Linked DNA regions of Homo sapiens. The protein of the gene in region 2 purifies or fractionates together with the protein of the main gene of each other region. This does not show direct contact. Each region holds a gene or a part of one and is shown on either strand. Other genes may lie near its edges.

What was found. Proteins that work in one complex are often made in the same cells at the same time.
Region 1: the proteins of TAS2R41 (region 2) and SNX3 purify together in Homo sapiens (affinity purification with mass spectrometry; 3 studies listed by BioGRID and IntAct, with this or other methods). This does not show direct contact.
Region 3: the proteins of TAS2R41 (region 2) and YKT6 purify together in Homo sapiens (affinity purification with mass spectrometry; 3 studies listed by BioGRID and IntAct, with this or other methods). This does not show direct contact.

The regions. Positions count from the first base shown.
Region 1 is NC_000006.12:108,251,038-108,258,068, forward strand, and holds part of SNX3 (sorting nexin-3), read right to left. Parts: intron 1-7,031. UniProt on the Homo sapiens protein: Phosphoinositide-binding protein required for multivesicular body formation. Specifically binds phosphatidylinositol 3-phosphate (PtdIns(P3)).
Region 2 is NC_000007.14:143,473,469-143,479,310, forward strand, and holds TAS2R41 (taste receptor type 2 member 41), read left to right. Parts: upstream 1-4,404; coding exon 4,405-5,328; downstream 5,329-5,842.
Region 3 is NC_000007.14:44,203,950-44,210,980, reverse strand, and holds part of YKT6 (synaptobrevin homolog YKT6), read right to left. Parts: intron 6,414-7,031; coding exon 6,331-6,413; intron 4,597-6,330; coding exon 4,496-4,596; intron 3,594-4,495; coding exon 3,489-3,593; intron 2,849-3,488; coding exon 2,783-2,848; intron 1-2,782. UniProt on the Homo sapiens protein: Vesicular soluble NSF attachment protein receptor (v-SNARE) mediating vesicle docking and fusion to a specific acceptor cellular compartment. Functions in endoplasmic reticulum to Golgi transport; as part of a SNARE complex composed of GOSR1, GOSR2 and STX5.

The DNA of each region.
Region 1 (7,031 bases), on a different chromosome or scaffold from region 2:
AGTAAAACCAAAATAGTTTTAAGCAGCCTTGGAAGGAAAAAAAAAAAGGTTAATCAACTACCTTTAGAATCTCTAGCCCAATCTCAAGGTATACCCCTATCAGATATGCCATGTCTTCATGCTTGCCTTTTTTCTCAACTTAACAAAATTAATTATCATGAAAGAATCAAAACTTACTCACTTAAGACTTCCAAACTAATGAAAGTACAATTTTATTTCTTGCAAATCAAATGAACTTACTCTAAACTGAAATTCCAGGCATTAGCAAAAAAAGGAAATAACAGATGATCACAGTGTAGCTTAAAGCCATATCCTAGAAGGGCCAACCACAACCATTTGTTAATGTGGCAAAGCAAAGAACAGTGTCTACTCTTCCCTTCTTCACATGGCCACCTGGTTAAATTTCCCAGCTTCTTTTGTAGCTAAGTACAGCAATGCGCAGAAACAGAAATAATACGACTTCCTGGTTGTGTCCTTCAAGGGCAGAAATAAACATTCCCCTTGGCTAGAATGTGAATATGATGTTAGAAGCTGATAGTCAAGCCACAATACTAACCCTGGACTGTACCTGAAACCTCTCCATGTGGAGAAAAAAACCAAAAAAACAAAAAATTATCCTCTTTATCTGAGAACAGCCCAAACTCTATACTACCTGATACAACCTTTCTGGCAAGCTATAGCAAACGTCACATTTTACTAACACATTCCAAATTCCTAGGTTGTCAGTTAAATATTTCTTTAAAGAAGTAGTGGCCAGGCGCGGTGGCTCATGCCTGTATTTTGGGAGGCTGAAGTGGGCATATCACTTGAGGCCAGGAGTTCGAGACCAGCCTGGGCAACACGATGAAACCCCATCTTTACTAAAAATACAAAAATTAGCCAGGCATGGTGGTGCACGACCTATATATTCCCAGCTACTTGGGAGGCTGAAGCATGAGAATTGCTTGAACCAGGGAGGCAGAGGCTGCAGTAAGCTGAGACTGCACTATTGCACTCCAGCCTGGGCAACAGGGTGAGAGACTGTCTCAAAAATAAATAAATAAATAAAACAAACAAACAAACAAAAAAATGAAGTAGAACTTTGGTTGAAAGCTTTGTCTTTTAACTAAGGAATCAAAACAGTAAACTGCAGTTCCAGTTTCCTGTGCTGGGTCTAAGGAAGGGATGGCAGGCACCACGTCCAGCTTCCTGACAGGCACCTACGGCAAGAAGCCCCTGACGAGAAACAGGCCAAGGAGATGTATGAGGAAGACAAGGATTTCAAGCAGAAACAAGAAGAGGAGCAGAAAAAACTTGAGGAGCTAAAAGCAAAGGCCACAGGGAAGGGTTCCCTGGATAGGTGGAATTAAGAAATCCGGCAAAAGTCTATGGCCATTCTATCCTGAATGCAATTGCTCGTCTGATCTCAGAAGCTAAGCGGGGTTGGGCCTGGTTAGTACTTAGAAGGGAGAAATCTGGAAAACAAGAACAAAAACCAAAAAACAAACCACTGTGTCCGAGGCAATGATGACCCTTGATCCCATTCCTATTTAAATATCTGCATTTCCTACTATAAAATCTTCTGCTTCCACTCTAGGAAGCAAAGGATGAAATGTCTTGGAGCCTGTTGCACATTTAAGAATAAACTTTTTTTCTCTTTTTCTCTTTTTTTTTGGCACAGAGTCGCGCTGCCACCCACCGCAACCTCTGCCTCCAAGGTTCACGCAATCTTTGTGCCTCAGCCCCCTGAGTAGCTGGGATTATAGGCATGCACCACCACACTGGCTAATTTTTGTATTTTAGTAGATATGGGGTTTTGCCATGTTGGTCAGGCTGGTCTCGAACTCCTGATCTCGAGGGATCCACCCGCCTCAGCCTCCCAAAGCGCTGGGATTACAGGCATGAGCCACCACACCCGGCCCTAAGAATAAACTTCTGGAAAAAAGAAAATAGCAGTTCCAAGATTTTTTTGGACACCATCTTTCTTATCTGATGTTCAAGAAATTGCTGGCTCTATTTACATGAAAGCAGCATAACATGGTACAAACATCAAAGTATCTAATAATAACAGTCTACTACTTTCTGGAAGGGGTGAGATAAGCATGATGATAAAGGTGAGCAGGAGAGGAAAATGTCTATTGCATGTGATCACCAGGATAGCTCAAAGCACTTTTTTAGATTTTCCCCTTTACAGGTATAAAGTGACAATATTTATAAAGATTCCTTTTTTGAGGCATGCTTGATGGCATGCAACAGTAATCCCAACTACTTGGCTGAGGTAGGAGGCTCACTTGAGCCCAGGAGTTCAAGACCAGCCTGGACAACACAGCGAGAACCTGTCTCCAAAAAATTCCTTTCTTAAATGAATACATATGTCTTTTTTTTTTTTTTTTTTTTACTTCTGGCTTACTTTCATGATTATTATACAGGGATATAGACATGGATGATGCAAGACAAGGGCAAAAAGATCTGGCTTGATTGAATGTAGTCTGTGTCTCCCCTTCCTCCCAAAAACTTAAGCTGTAGAGATTGGTATGCTTTCAGTTAATATTTAAATGCCTCCCCTCCAAAAAGTTTTCTATCTTTGACAAATGTCACTGGTTTTCCTCTCTGTTGCCAAGATCTGCTATTCATTTTATGTTTTACTATTTTAGAATCTATTTTTTTAATCCCATCAAAGCTACCAACCATTGTGGTTCTATGTATATTTCTCTTCCTTCTCTACTGTCTATCTATCTCAGTGAGACAGATAGCATGATAAGCAGCAGGAGAAATCCTTGCTGCATATAAGTGCCCTTACTGGGATGCTTTTTAAACCACCACTGCCGGCCGGGCTTGGTGGCTCACGCCTGTAATTCCAGCACTTTGGGAGGCCGAGGTGGGTGGATCACGAGGTCAGGAGATGGAGACCATCCTGGCTAACAAGGTGAAACACCATCTCTACTGAAAACACAAAAAAAATTAGCCAGGCGTGGTGGCAGGCACCTGTAGTCCCAGCTACTCGGGAGGCTGAGGGAGGAGAATGGCATGAACCCAGGAGGTGGAACTTGCAGTGAGCTGAGATTGCACCACCTCACTCCAGCCTGGGTGACAGAGTGAGATTCCGTCTCAAAGAAAAAAAAAAAAACCGCCACTGCCCAAACCCCACCCCACCCCAGTAAAAGAGAACCTGAATGGTTTCAAAGGCTCCTCAGGTGATATGAATTTTCTGTGAGGGCTCTGGGCAACCATGGTAAAACCTTGTCTGAGACAAGCCTGGGCAACATGGAGAAACCCTGTCTCTACAAATACAAAAAAATTAGCCAGGCATAGTGGCGTGCTCCTGTAGCCCCAATTACTCAGGAGGCGAAGGTTGGGAGGGTTGCCTGAGCCCAGGAGGTCGAGGCTACAATGAGCCCAGATTGCACCACCGTGCACTCTAGCTTGGGCAACAGAGTGAGACCCTGTCTCAAACAAAAGTACGGGCTCTGAAGGTCCGAAAATCTAGGTTCAAATCCCAGTTTTACCATTTAATAGCTGTGACCCTGGGGAAGTTAACTTTCTTAAACTTCATTTATTTGTAAGTGTCCACTATGTGCCAAGCAGTGTTGGATATTGAGTAAGGGTGATTATGACAGTCCCTGTCCTCTAAGAGCTTATAATGGGTGACACAGGAACTTACAGGAAGCCAAAGACAAGCAAACAAATTTATTCCTAACAAAGCTACCAGGGCACACAGGAAGGAAATCTGGTCCAGAGTCAAGGGATCAGCAAAATCTTTAAAAAGGGGACATTAAGGCTGAGTCCTGCAGGATAAGTGATAGTAACCAGATGAGGCTCTTAAAGGAAGCCTGTTCTTAACAGAGGAGGAAGTGTGTGCAAAAGGCCTGGATACAAAAGAACTCAGCTTAATTGGGAGATACCAGTTCAGGACTGGAGTTAAAATGAGGAAAGGACAAGAGATGAGGATCAGTTGATCAGCTTCTACAGGAATATTATCTACTCTGCTTGGTTACCTCAAGATTAAATTTTATAGATAGAGCACAGTGCTTTGCACATAAAAGATACTCAAATGATACATCCCTTAACAGAACAGAATCCCTAAAAACTCAATATAACAGGACTACTTTAAAATAGCCACTGTCTTCCTCCCCCACTCTCCATTCTGGGGATGGATTAGATAAGGACAGAATCTTCACTGCTAATAGCATGCTTCTCCTTGATGGAGATCCTGGAAAAGTCAGCCGTAGCTGGCAGCAACATGTGTAACAGACAACATCTCATTGGCCAATTGATAGAGCTACATAGATTCTGCAGATGTCCTCTGGCATCAAAATGCCCTGATTTTTTTTTCTTTGCTTTGCTTTTTTTAGAGGCAGGGTCTCACTGTGTCACCCAGGTTAGAGTGCGGTGGTATGATCGTGGCTCACTGCAGTGTTGACCTCCTCCTGGGCTCAAGAAATCCTCCCACTTCAGCCTCCCACATAGCTGGGACTACAGGCACACGCCACCATGCCTGGCTAATTTTTAAATTTTTGTAGGGACAGGGTCTCACTGCGTTGCCCAGGCTGTGTGGCAACGCCTGAGCTCAAGTAGTCCTCCCACCTTGGCCTCCCAAGTGCTGGGATTACATACAGGAGCCACCGTGCCCGACCCCCCGATTCTTTAAAATACTATTAATATTTTAGCCCTTCAATAATACATGTTTATAATTCCCAAAAATAAGTCTAAGATTTTAAAATTTATTTCTCAGCTTCCAATCTGGATATTAATGACTCCTAATTTAAGATTAGATGACTGACCCAGAGGAAAAAACATATACAAGTTTAGAACGGCAAGCACTGTCAAGATAAGATGCTACATTTATTTAGCACCTTGTCAAAATTTTTATCAGCCAACGTTATTATTCAGCTTTATGCTTTAATAAAGCTCAACTTTAAAAGATTATTTGGAGCCTGGCATGGTGGCTCACACCTATAATCCTAGCAGTTTTGGAGGCTGAGGTGGGAGTATCACTTGAGCCCAGGAGTTCAAGAGCAGCCTGGGCAACATAGTGAGATCTCGTCTCTACAAATAATTTAAAAATTAGCTGGGTGTGGTGGTATGCGCCTGTGGTCCCAGCTAGTAGAGAGGCTGAGGTTGGGAGGATCACTTGAGCCTGGGAGGTCAAGGCTTCAGTGAGCTGTGACTGCACCACTGCACTCTAGGCTGAGAGACAGAGGGAGACCCTGTCTCGAAAAAATAAATACATACACAAAGGTTACTTGGTTAAGTACCAAATAAGATAGCTTATTTTTATACCATGCTTGCTTAATGAAGGTATACTTCCATGACAAGTAGGTTTCTTGACAAGAAAATCTAACAATTTTAGTAACTCAACTAAACATTAACACACAGAAAATGTAGTTGATCACTGACGTTTAATTTAGAAAATGTCTATCTTTAGAAAGAGCTAAATTTTGCGTGCTTATTATGTGCCAGGCACTGTGCTAGAAAGATTCATGTGCCTTATCCCATTTAGTCCTAAGAGGTAGGTACTATTATTAGCACACCTATTTCACAGAGGGGAAGTGGAGCTTTGATTTTGTATCTTACCCAGCTAGGAAATGTTAAATCTATTCTTTGAACTGAGGACTATGTCAGAGCTCAAGAAAGATTCTAATTCCATTCCTGTTCAAAACAGTGGTCTCCAGGTAAAATAGATCTTGATTAACTTAAAAATCTCCAGAATATTAAAGTTATATTACAGCACAAACTTCATAAACAGTGACTGAATTTTGCTTTCAGCCTTCTCTTGAATATGCCTAAATAATTCCAGACCTTGAACTTTCCTAAACCTTTAATCATTTATGGTGCTCTCTGCTGTACCTACCCATTAGAACAATTTTTAAAAACATAACACTGTGTAATTATTTTCAAAAGCCCAGAGATACTAATCAAGTGATCCTAATAGTCTTAAACACTATCCTCAAACCAAAAGATAAATGGAGATTGGGAAACTTGCATTCTAAGTGCCACCATCCATATAAAATTGCCCTGTGAATTAGAGTAATTTCAATCAGATCCTGTAAAACTGTAAATTTTTCTCAAGACCAGAATGAGACAGTAACTGTAAGATAGTTTAAAAGCCCAAATTCTGGAACATAAAATGGTTTTCCACATAGCAAATTCAACAGCAAAAGGTAGTCAGTAGGGGTTCGGGAGAGCAGCAACATTTAGAAAATAATAAATAAAATTGCAGGGCTGGGTGAGGTGGCTCATGCCTGTAATTCCAACACTTTGGGAGACTGAGAGGGGGAGGGCCACTTGAGGCCAGGAGTTCAAGACCATCATGGGCAACATAGCAAGTCTCATCTGACAAAAAATAAAAAATTAGCCAGGTATAGTAGTACCCTGTAGTCCAGCTACTTGGGAGGCTGAGGCGGGGGGAATACTTGAGTCCTCGAGTTTGAGAATGCAGTGAGCCACAATCATGCCACTGTGTTCCAGCCTGGGCTACAGAACGAGACTCTTATCTCAAGAAGAAAAAAATTACAAAATATTAAACTATTCATGTCATAGCCACTCTGCCTTAATGCAAGACTATAATTACTCTAAAAAATCATATGCTGCTCAAATAAGGCCTAATTTCCTTACTATATGGTGTCCTTAGTTTTAAGTTAACACATTACATACTAAAAGAAATCCAGGCTGGGCATGGTGGCTCACGCCTGTAATCTCAGCACTTTGGGAGGCCAAGGTAGGCAGATCATGAGGTCAAGGGACTGAGACCATCCTGGTCAACATGGTGAAACCCCGTCTCCACTAAAAATACAAAAATTAGCTGGGCGTGGTGGCGCGTGCCTGTAGTCCCAGCTACTTGGGCGGCTGAGGCAGGAGAATCGCTTGAACTCGGAAGGCAGAGGTTGCAGTGAGCCAAGATCGCGCCACTGCACTCCAGCCTGGCGACAGAGCAAGGCTCTGTCTCAAAAAGAATAAAAATAAAAATAAAAAAAGAAAGAAATCCAAAGTCATTTCATGCATTAAAAACTCAATTAGGTTTTCACATAGGCACTGGCATTTATGACTGTTAA
Region 2 (5,842 bases):
AACACTGTAATAATGGTATAGAAATTACTTTTAATTCTAATATAATAGTTAAAAGATAAAAATTTGATAATGGATACACAATATAAAAAGAAGCAAACTGACTACAAAAGCACAAAGTGTGGGTGGGGGAAAGTAAAAATGTAGAATTTTAATATGCAATTGAAGTTAAGTTGTTAACATAAAATAGACAATTATATCTACAAGGTATTTTATGTAAACCTCGAGTTACCCACAAAGAAAAAAACCTATAAAAGATACACAAATATAAAGGGAACATAAAAATTGAAGAGTTAAAGGAAATCACTACAAAAATCATCAAATGACAAAGCAAGACAGCAAAAGAGGAAGAGAGGAACAAAACAACTGCAAAACAAATAACAATTATTGCTATATTTGATATTATTGCAAAAGGGTCCTCAGCTACCAATAATTACTTTAAATAAAAATGGATTAAACTACCCAATCGAAAGGCAAAGAGTGGCAAATAAATTAAAAACAACAAGATCCAGAGATATGCTGTCTGTAAGAGATCACTTTAAGACACACGTAAGATGAAACTGAAGGGATAGAAAAGATTTTCATGCAAATAGTAAACAAAAGAAATCAGGAGTAGTTATACCCAACAAAATAGAATTTAACTAAAAAACTGTCTCTAGAGACAAATAAGTCATTACATAATAATAAAAGGGCCAACTCAACAGGAAGATAAGACAATGATAAAAATATATGTGCCCAACTTGAGAATATATAAATATACAAAACAAATATTGACAGTTCAGACAATATTGACAGCAATATAATAATAGTAGGAGACTTCAATAACTGACTTAACATAATGAATAGAACATTCAGACAAAAATGAATAAGCAGTTTACCCGAACAACACTGCAGACTAAGTGGACCTTTTCACCCAATAGCAGCAGAACACCCATTCTTCTCAAGGGCACATGCAACATTCTCCAGGATAGATCCCGTCCTAGGTCACAAAATAAGCCTTAACACATTTAAGGAGATTGAAATTATTCCAACTATCTGGTCTGACCACAAAAATTAAACTAGAAGTCATTAACAGTAAGACAACAAAAACATTCAGAAATACATGGAAACTAAACACATTTTGAATAATCATTGAATCAAAGAATCAAAAGGTAATTTGAGAAGGATTTCAAGACAAATGAAAACAAAAACACTACATACCAGCACTTATAGGAATGCAGTACTAGAGGGAAATTTGTAGTGATAAATACATTAAAAGAAGAAAGATCTCAAATAAACAACCTAATTTTACACCTCAAGGAAGTAGGAAAAGAGCATAAAACATAAAACACTGATGAAAGAAATTGAAGAGGACACAAATAAATGGAAAGATATCTTATGTTCATGGAATGGAAAAATAAATATTGTCAAAATATCCAAATTATCCAAATCTACAGATTTCATGTAACTTCTATAAAAATTCCAATGTCACTCTTCACAGAAATAGAAAGAAAATCCTAAAATTCATGTGGAATCACAAAGGACCCTGAATAACTAAAGCCATCTTGACCAAAAAGAACACAGCTGTATGTATCACACTACTGTATTTCAAAATATATTACAAAATGATAGCAATCAAAACAGCATGGTTCTGGCAAAAAAACAGACACATTGACCAATGGAGTAGGATTGAAAGCCCGTGTATAAAACTACACTTCTGTGGTCAATTGATTTTTGACAAAGTGCCAAGAATACACAATGGGGAAAAGATAGTCTCCTCAATAAATGAGGTTGGGAAAACTGGGTATCCACATGCAGAAGAATGAAATTTCATCCTCTTCTTACACTACATGCAAAGTTAAATCAAAATAGATTAAATATTTAAATGCAAGACCTGAAATCATAAAACTCTTAGAAGGACACATAGGAAAAGAGCTTCTTGACACTGGTTTGGGTAATGACTTATAGAAAACTACACCTAAAGCACAGGCAAAAATTCAGCTAAATAAACATAGACAAATGGGATTGCATCAAAATAAAAAGCTGCAAAGCCAAGAAAACAACCAGCAGAATGGAAATTGGGAGAAAATATTTGTAAACAACATATCTAATAGGTGTTAATTTCCAAAATATATAAGGAACTTTGGCTGGGTGCCCTGGCTCACGCCTGTAATCTTGACATTTTGGGAGGCCAAGGCAGAAAGATTGCATGAGCCCAGTAGTTTGAGACTAGCCTGAGCAACATAGTGAGACTCTGTCTGTACAAAAAATAAAAAAAATTAACCGGGTGTGGCAGTGCATGCCTTTAGTCCCAGATACCTGGAAGGCTGAGGTGGGGAAGATTGGATCATCCTTCCTACCTTGAGGCTCCAGTGAGCTGTAATGGTGCCACTGCGCTCCAGCCTGGGTGGCAGAGTGAGACCCCGTCTGAAATAAATAAATACAAATAATAAAAATACAAGGAACTTATTCAACTGTAGTGCAGAAATAAACAAAAAACATAAATAACCTGATTTTAAAATGGGCAAAGGACCTGAATAACATCTCTCAAAAGAAGACAAAAATCGTTCATGAAAATATGTTTAATATCACAAATCACCTGAGAAATGCAAATCAAAACCACAATGAGGTATCATCTTACATGTGTTAGAATGGCTGTTACCAAAAAGATGAAGGATAACAAGTGTTGGCAAAAATACAGAGAAAAGCAGCTCTTTCAGTCTGTTGACAGGAATATAAATTATGGAAAACACTATAAAGATTTCTCAGAAAATTAAAAACAGACCTACCTTATCCAGTAATTCCACTTTTAGGTGTATATGCAAAGGAAATGAAACTAGTATTTTGAAGAGATATCTGCACTCCCATGTTCATTGAAAATTATTCACAATAGCCAAGACATGGAAACAATCTAAAAGCCCATTAACAGATGAATGAACAAAGAAAATGTGGTGTGCATACACAATGGAATATGATTCAGTCTTAGAAAAGGCGATTCTGCCATTTGCAACAACGTAGATGGAACTGGAGGACATTATGCTATGTGAAATGCTCCAGAGACAGAAATACATATATTGTACGATCTCACTTACATGTGGAATCTGAAAAAACAAACCCACAGAAGTAGAGAGTAGATTGGTGGTTGCCAGGGTTCTGGAAGGGGAAATGGGGAGATATTGGTCAAGGGGTATGAAGTTTCAGTTATGCTAAGTGAACATGCTTTGGAAACCTAAGGTATGGTAGTATGAGTATAGTAAACAATACTGCACTGTATACTTGAACTTTCATGAGAGGGTAGATCTTAAGTGTTCTCACTACACATGAAGAAATTGAAAACAGGAATTATGTGAGGTGATAGATATATTTTAAAAGAAAATATTTTTACTTTCAACATGGTCTCATAGGGACTTCTTTTTGATGTTGGTGTTAGACAGGACTCACATATGCCTCGGGTATCTCAGGGTGGCAGACAGACTGTAAAGTGGCCCTGCCTGTCCCTCAACCCTGGTGTTGGGCCTTTGTGTAACCTCCTTCTTTTGAGTGTTGTTGGTGACAGTGACTTGCTTCTAGCCAATAGACTATGGCAAAGGTGATAGGCTGTCACTCCAATGATTGTGTTATGTTATTTAAGACCCCATCTTGTTAGCAGACTCCCTTTAGAGACTGCTGACTTGACGTGAGTGGCCATGCTGAAACAGCTTACCTGGCAGAGACTGTGAGAGGCCTCTAGGACCAGAGAGCAGTCTCCCACCAACACCCAGGAAGAAACAGGGGCTCTCAGTCCTGCTTCGGAAGGCCCCTCAACCACATGATAATGAATTCTCTCACTGGAAATACAAAACCCGTTTACACCATTATCATTTACATCTCAGGATTCATGGAGGATCTAAGTAGAGATCTGGATGGAGAGGTAGACGAAGTGTTTGATTTTGAAGCGATTTGTGGGCAAAGGCAGTAAGGTAAGCATGGATGTGTAACAGGGAAGTACTGAGACAGAATTCTTTGATGTCACTATTTTTCCTGTGTATCTCCTATACTTGTCTCTATATTTAAAGTCTTAAGAATGTTCTGATGGGAAGAGGAGTGTTCATACGGCCTGAGGATGGAACTCAGTCACAGAGACCCAGAAAAATCATAGACATTGATACTAACCATGGCAGCATGCAGGAAAACTGGACAAGGCAAATTAGGGTAATTTGCAGGCCTAGTGGTAACTGACACTAGGATAAATTTGCATCCTGTCTGAGCCAAGAGCACACCTCTCCTCTTTAGCCTGAGCATCCTCCTCTCTAAGTGAGCTCTGGTTCAGATGCAGAGCCTGACCACTCTTTAGCACTCCTAGGAAAGATTAAAAACAGGACTGTGGCTAGGGGCAGGGAGGAGGCCAGGGACCAAGGCACTCAAGTGGGGACTGCAGGAGGGGTCAGAATGCAAGCAGCACTGACGGCCTTCTTCGTGTTGCTCTTTAGCCTGCTGAGTCTTCTGGGGATTGCAGCGAATGGCTTCATTGTGCTGGTGCTGGGCAGGGAGTGGCTGCGATATGGCAGGTTGCTGCCCTTGGATATGATCCTCATTAGCTTGGGTGCCTCCCGCTTCTGCCTGCAGTTGGTTGGGACGGTGCACAACTTCTACTACTCTGCCCAGAAGGTCGAGTACTCTGGGGGTCTCGGCCGACAGTTCTTCCATCTACACTGGCACTTCCTGAACTCAGCCACCTTCTGGTTTTGCAGCTGGCTCAGTGTCCTGTTCTGTGTGAAGATTGCTAACATCACACACTCCACCTTCCTGTGGCTGAAGTGGAGGTTCCCAGGGTGGGTGCCCTGGCTCCTGTTGGGCTCTGTCCTGATCTCCTTCATCATAACCCTGCTGTTTTTTTGGGTGAACTACCCTGTATATCAAGAATTTTTAATTAGAAAATTTTCTGGGAACATGACCTACAAGTGGAATACAAGGATAGAAACATACTATTTCCCATCCCTGAAACTGGTCATCTGGTCAATTCCTTTTTCTGTTTTTCTGGTCTCAATTATGCTGTTAATTAATTCTCTGAGGAGGCATACTCAGAGAATGCAGCACAACGGGCACAGCCTGCAGGACCCCAGCACCCAGGCTCACACCAGAGCTCTGAAGTCCCTCATCTCCTTCCTCATTCTTTATGCTCTGTCCTTTCTGTCCCTGATCATTGATGCCGCAAAATTTATCTCCATGCAGAACGACTTTTACTGGCCATGGCAAATTGCAGTCTACCTGTGCATATCTGTCCATCCCTTCATCCTCATCTTCAGCAACCTCAAGCTTCGAAGCGTGTTCTCGCAGCTCCTGTTGTTGGCAAGGGGCTTCTGGGTGGCCTAGATGGCATGGTTTCCTTATCTAGACCCCCGGAAAAGAAAGGTGAGGATGGCAGAGCTGTGGCCCACTGACATGGAGGTGTTTTCATAGGTAGATGAATACTGGGTACTGTTATGGGGCTCCTCCTCTGGGAAGCGGAGGAGACAAGGAAATCTGGGAACTCTCTGAGCATGCTTCCCTTCTTTGGAATGTTATAAAGATGCAGTCCCATGGATCCCAGAGAGCCAGTATTGCCCAGAAGTTCAGAATATGTTAATATGATGTCGTGCTACTCCTTACGTTTGTACCCCTTTGTTATCTGGAAGGCTTCGATTAAAAGTGTTGATTAACTGTGCCATCGCATCTCCACTGCCTTTCAGAAAGTTAAGAGCAAATATTTGCCTCTATGGCTGAACTGAGATGTGGATAGTGAAGCGACAGCCTTCTTGAGGACAAATGTCATGGTTACTACGAGAGCCCCAAGGGACAGGCAGTTGTGGCAGGCAGTGGCCTGGGCTGTGAGTTCTGATTGCCCTTT
Region 3 (7,031 bases), about 99 Mb from region 2:
GCCCTGACATGAGCCCCTCATATTTCAGTCATGGGGGAAAGTGCCTTACCTGGGTTCCTCTCCAACACACACAAACTTCACCTCTAGGTGTCGAGACTCGGTCCAAGAATAGTTACTGTCCAAGTGGATGGAACAGAACCTGGTGACATTCCCGTGAAATCTAGAAGATCTAACTGGGATGTAGCAGACTTCCCAAAAAGCTGTCCCCAGCACAGGCTTAGATAACCAGCACTCCAGGAAAACTCATATATATATATACACACACATTTATATATACATTTGTGTGTGTGTGTGTGTGTGCACGCACATGTGCGTGTGCATGGAGCTTTGGAAAAAAGAGTAGCTGGGCACTATATGATTGTACTGGGTTGGAGAGTGACCCACACCGCACCCCCCAACCCCAACCGCATCCCAGAAATTAACATCCCCAGAATCTCTGAATGTGACCATATTTAGAAATAGGGTCTTGGCAGATGTAACTAGTTAGGAAGAGGTAATACTGGATTAGGGTGGCATCTAATTCCATGACTGATGTCCTGGTAAGAAACGGAAACACACACACAGAAGGTCACGTGACGGCAGAGGCAGAGCCTGAAGTGATGCACCTCTAATCCAAGGAATGCCAAGGATGGCCAGCAGCCACCAGAGGCTGGAGAGAGGCCTGGGACAGACACTCAGAGCCCCAAAAGACACCAGCCAGGCCCACAGAGCTATCTGTTAAAAGCAAATATTTGAGGGTTTCTGTTGACAGCAGCCACAGGAAACAAAAGGCGGTGGGAAATGGCTATTGAGCACTTGATGTGAGGCAAGTCCAAACTGAGCAGCGCTCTGAGTACAGACACACCAGATTTCAGATGCAAACTCACACATGCTTCATTAGTAAGTTTTATACTGAAAAAAAAACAAGTTTTATACCGATTACATGTTGGAAAAATTGTATTTGGATATACTGCGTTAAGTAAAATATATAATTAAATTAAATTCTACCTATTTTCCTTTTATCATTTTAAAATATGGCTCCTAGAAAATTCTAAGTTACACACATGCCCCAAATATATACCAGACAGCACTATGACAGAACATGTCCTGCCTTCTAAATGGGCTATGTCCTAAATGTCATCACTACAAACTCTGACTTAGGAAATGAAAACACTGACCCCATGGGAAGGGGTCTAGAGATGGAGACCTCACAAGAGCCAGCAGCTCTGCTGCCAGGGCCCTCAGGAAGCAGCAGCTCGCTTCTCTCCTCAGATGGCCACTGCTGCAGCAGCTAGATGCACACATGAAGCGCCATAGAACAAGGAGCCAGCAAGAATGTCCTTCATCCCTACACACAGCTGAGCGACTCAAATTTTTAACACAGAAAGTTAACTGATTCAGATATGCACACCAATCATCTAGATTTTACAACTGCAGCTAGATGAGGCTGGGTGAATAGGACTCATCCACTCCCCACCGTGGGGAGAGGAGAAACAGCGGGTGTCCCAGGTGTCATGGTACTCAGACTAGGACTTGAGCAACAGAAAGAGATGGCTTGAGGAGAAAACGGAGAAATGCCACCTAGGTGGTAAGAAAGCTCACAAGGTTTCAAAAGACACAGATACCATGAGACTTTCACATCTATCGTTCATTCCAAAGCCACGTTATTTGGAGTGCAGTCAGCACACCTGTGTTTGAAGCCCCTGGGATGCTTTTTATAAAATGCAGGTTCCCAGGCTCCATCGCAGGCCAACAACTCCAACCCCAGGAGACGCTGATGTACACACTAAAGCTATGCCTGTGTAAATGGTAAAGCTTTGTATGTGGGTTTCAATCCACTCCAGGTATCTATCAACTGCTGAGCATGGTATAAACTAGGCACTGTATCATGAGCAGGATGGAAAGATGTCCCAGTGCTCATACGCTGGTCAGGGAGACATGTAAACAAGCAGTGACAAAACTGTGACATCTGGTCAGAAAGGCCCAACCTTCAGGCGCCTGTGTGTGAGCTGGGCAAGAAAGGGTATAAGAGAGAACAGGGCCCAGTCAGGAGACTGTGAGTTAGTTTGCACTTTATCCTGGGGCGGATCTGAGAGCTGCTGAAGGGTTCTAAGTTGTGCAGATCAATGACTACTCTCTGGTGGACAGACTGGAGGTGAGCAGGAGGCAAGGGGACCACTTAGAGGCAAAGGCTGTAAGAGAAAAACCTGAGAAAAACAGATAGCTGCTTACATTCCACTTGTATGCAAAAATTTAAAAAAAAAGAGTTGAAGCAACAGTTACAAATCAGGAGATTTCAGCTCAAAATGCAGGGTTCTGGCTCTTTTCAAAGGGGCCTATGTGACAACCCTGGGCCCATATTCCAGAAGCTGCCCTGTGGTCAGTGCACGGTGCTTCAATCTGTTCACCTTCAATGCAAACGCTGCAAGGGGAGGCACCTGTGGGGTGTGGAGGCACCCGAAACCCTAACAAAGGCACCAGGGTGGGAATCCAGGTCTTCAGAAGCCAAACCCTAGGAACCCAGTAAATGGTCAGACAGGCAGTAGCCATGAGGAAGGGAGACTTGAGGGTTCCACTGGTTCCCAGCTTGGTCCCCTAGAAACAATGGGTGCCATTAACCAAGAGAAGGGTATAGGAAAGACAGTCTGATGCCCGGGGTGGGGGAAGGGGTGGGCAATCCCACTTGCTGGAGAGTGCCGTGGTTACTATTATATTAAAACGAGGATGGATCTGTGCATGCCTGGCCAGTGGAAATCGCACCCCCGCCTCAGTTCTTGGGCTTGCTCTCCATCTTCCTGCTTACCAGAATGATTTTGGTCTCATCTAGTTCGGCCTGCACTTTAGTCATGGGATCAGCTTCTCGTGGGTTCTAGGAAAGAGTGAAAAATAATAAAGTCAGGACTGGAGTGGCTACCTGCAAACAAAACCTAAAACTGAGGAAGCTGGACAAACTTTCACAGGTTAAAAACCACAGCCTGGGCCGGGCACAGTGGCTCACGCCTGTAATCCCAGCATTTTGGGAGGATGAGGCGGGTGGATCACCAGAGATCAAGAGTTCGAGACCAGCCTGACCAACATGGTGAAACCGTCTCTACTAAAAATACAAAAATTAGCCAGGCGTGGTGGCACATGCCTGTAATCCCAGCTACTCGGGAGGCTGAGGCAGGAGAATCGCTTGAACCCAGGAGGTGCAGGTTGAGTGAGCCGAGATTGCGCCACTGCACTCCAGCCTGGGAAACAGAGTGAGACTCCAACTCAAAAAACAAAAAACAAAAAAAAAAACCCACAGCCTGTTTAACATGTAACAGAAACCCAAAGCCTGCCTAGAGCTTGGGTTCCCCGGTCTGAACGTAGATTCTCTGTTTTCCAAACAGTAAGGCTTGAGAGAGGACACCAGCATCAGAAGCTGTCAGAAGTAATTAGACCAGAACTATCAGGGCAGTTGGCTTTTTCAGTTTCACATGGATTCTGGGCCACATGGTGTCTGCTGAAGCTTCCTTTAACCCTACCTGGTATCTACTGAGGTGACCATCCAGGGCTGGGTAATGGATTGTAGCAGGGGATCCTACTGGCCAGTCTATCCTGTCGACTTGCTTGGAGAATTCATCTAGTACCTGCAAGACAAAGGAGACTCAACAAGCCTCCCACTGTGCACTCACCAGTGGTCTCAATGACAGGGCTTCACCCCTGAGCACCTCACCCTGAATGAGGCTCCTTGGCCTTCACAGCCCAGGAAGGAGGAATGAGGGGGACATATAATGGCAACAGAGAAAATCTAGGCTAAAGTTCTTTCCAAATTTTTATCATTAAAACATATCCTAAATATTCTGAGAATCAAAAGTATGCCCAGCCCGAGATGAACCTCACTTGGGGAGTAATAAAGGTATTTGAATTTTAAACTACAGATTTCCAGAAAAAAGGGGCACTGGTCCTCTAATTTTCCAAAGCAATTTTTTAAAAAAGAGAATTAGGTCCCCTAGATTTAAGAAACCACCAGATTCCATGTGTTTGGAGGTATTTTGGTGCTCTGGGGTATAGGATGAAGCCTCTGACTTCAAAGAGTTAATATTAGTAATTAGCACCGTACGCAAAAAAATTTAAAGAATGCTTAGGTGCTAAGCTCTGTGGTGCAACTGACTGACATCAAGGTAGAGGGATGCAGCAACTGCAGGAGGCAATGGGGAGAGTGAAGGCATTCAAGAGGGAGACTCCTTGAGCAGAAGCACAGGGGGCGAGAACACAAGGCACAGCTGTCTCCGAGGGTCCCATCCCAGAGAATAGATGCTATGACTCAGTGGCCTAGACCCAGCTCACATGAGGGACAGCACCGGGGAGGAAACCCATACAGGGATGCCAAATTGTCTCTTGGGTTGCAGGGAAGGGGGCTGAAAAATGTGTTGACTTTGGACACATCATTTCATCCCTTATGTCTCAGGGACTGCCATCAACCCCTGTCCCAGTCCATAAATGTGCCCATTCATCATCCAAGTCCAGGAGAGGCAAATAAAAAACTCACCTTCTCCAGCAAGGTAAAGGCCACCCGGGATGGGTATTCATTGTCAGCAATGACCACACCTGCAAGACTATCATTCCGGACGTAGACGTGGCACAGATAGTCTAAGGAGACAAGAGATCAGACACATGGATGCTGACATGAGGGCTTCAGACTTCTTTTAATCCCCCCAAATCAAAGCATCCAATGTTAGGCCAAATGAAGCCACTCGGAAGCTCAATAGCTCTGGGCAAGTCTTGTGGAGAGGCTTAGCAGCACAGCCCAATGGGCCACACACAGGAGCTTGGCCCAACGCCTGCTTTAGGACCAGTAAATACCCAGAGGCCCAGTATGCAAAGCCAGGGCTTAAAGAAACAGCCAGTGGTGCAGAAAACACACCCTTGACAACATGGCCCCAGGAGCATTTCCAAGTGTATTCCTTAAGCTCGGGTCAGGCCAAGCTATATCTTAGGGATCTGGAGCCCTTGGGGCTCTGTGCTGCTCCCAAACTTAGGGAACCCTGGACAAGCCAAGAGGCCTCTGCTTTCTTAAAAAATCTTTTCAGAGCAGCCAAAAGACAGGAAATTACCCCCCAGGGCCTCAGTCTTCCATATTATAGCAACCTGCTGGGTTTGCTCCACTCTGGTGGGTGACTGGGAGTAGGGGGGTTAGTCTAGAAAAAGATTAGCTACTGCCAGCTAAGGCCTCCAGAGCACTGTGCTAAAATCCTCATATGATTGAAAGGTACAGTTGTACAGGTCTTCCGCAAAATATTCACAATCCACAGGATTGTTCATTTCCATCACTTTGAAAGGATTCAGAGTTGATACAGCTAACCATATCCCCAAGGAAAGAGAAATGTAAGGATTACAGCTTACAAATAAGAACCTTCTTGTCCTTAAGGATCTGACCCAGAAGATTCCAATGCTAAACAACAGAAAAACAAATAAAAGAGGAGGGAATGATGGTGAGCCCCTGAAATCAGAAAAGAGCAGAGATAAATGAGAACAAGAATGAGGAGGAGGAAGAGGACAGGGGGTTGTCACCAATGCTCTCCAGATTTTGTATACCATCCCCAATTAAGATTCAAACATGGGGTCAAAGTGCATACCCTCCAAAGAAACTGAGAACCTGGTCAGTGGAGGAATTGTCTTTAAGTAATAAACGTGGGAAGGGCAGGCACAGTTTGAAGAACAGAGCAAGAACACTGAAATATTTGTGATGCGATTTCACTTCTATGATGTTAATAGCACAGAGATCCCACATAAAGTGTATATAGTCAATCCTGCCTGTATCATAACTGACATTTATATCATCAATTCAGTAACTCTATGTCACGTGACTTGAGGTTAGCATAAGTGTGAGATGATCTTTGTCCCTACCTGATGAAACTCATGTAACTCTTTCCTGATCTGTCTGTATAACATACACATCTAAATAAATGCCTAAACCTGAATTATCAGAAAGAAAAAATAGTTTTTTCAGATTCCTGATCAAAAAATCTACGATGCACAGAATACATATAGTACCTCAACAGTGCTAGCTGGAAATCCTTTTTTGAGGGGTCTGCAACTCTGAAGAGGATAGGGAAGAATACGATATGAAGGCTGCTTACTGCTCCAAAAGAGTCAGACCCTAATCTTAAATGAGTCTAAGTTTGAGGGCAATTTTATCTGGGAAGCTCAGACTTCAACAGTGGGCACAGAATTCTGCATAAATAGGAAAAGGAAGAGGTGGGAAAGAGAGAACAAGCTAGAGGAGGAGTAGGGTCCCAGTAGAAAGGAGAAAGCTGGGTGCTATGTGAGGTGAGGCATGGCAGCCAGGCCAGCACACGCACAGAAGTTGGAGGGTCTTCTTACCTTGTTCTTTGACAGAAGCTCTAGTGCCTTTCGATGAGCGCTCCACAATCAGTTGACTCGTGAAGGTCATGAATTCCTGAACGCTAAGAAACACAAAATGTATTTATTGCCTACTTCTTATCACCTTGTCCCCAACACAGTGGAAAGTGACCTCTGGGCTTATACATTAAGTAGACATTGCTTCTTGGTTTCATTCCTTTCCCTCCCATCCCTAGTAACAAACACTCTATAAATGAGCACAAATACTGATAATTATGAATTATCATCACCATGAAAGCTCCATCTGTTTGCTACCTGGCTCACCAAAACAGGTGAATTTTCTGGGGGGTTTTTCCACAGGATACAGTCAATTTTACATTTTGGTGAATGCATAATTTGGAATGCAATGGAAAAACAAGAGGCAGGTCCTGCTCTCAAGGTCCCAATAACTTCCAAGAAGCAGGACATTTATAAGAACTGCACTAGAAGAATAGTGTGCAAAAACTGTCAGGCAGAAATGCACAACCATTTATGGCTGTGTCCACATGACAGACCCTCGCAATGCCACATACACCCATAGTGAGTGCTGGCTCAGGTCTGCTGGGGCTCGTCCACAGAACGAGCGCAAGACACTCTGGATGGAACAAAAGGAAAACTGCTCATCCAAGACAAAGAAGTGGGAAATGGCTCATACAAAGGGTGAAAGGGAGAAGGTCCATCAT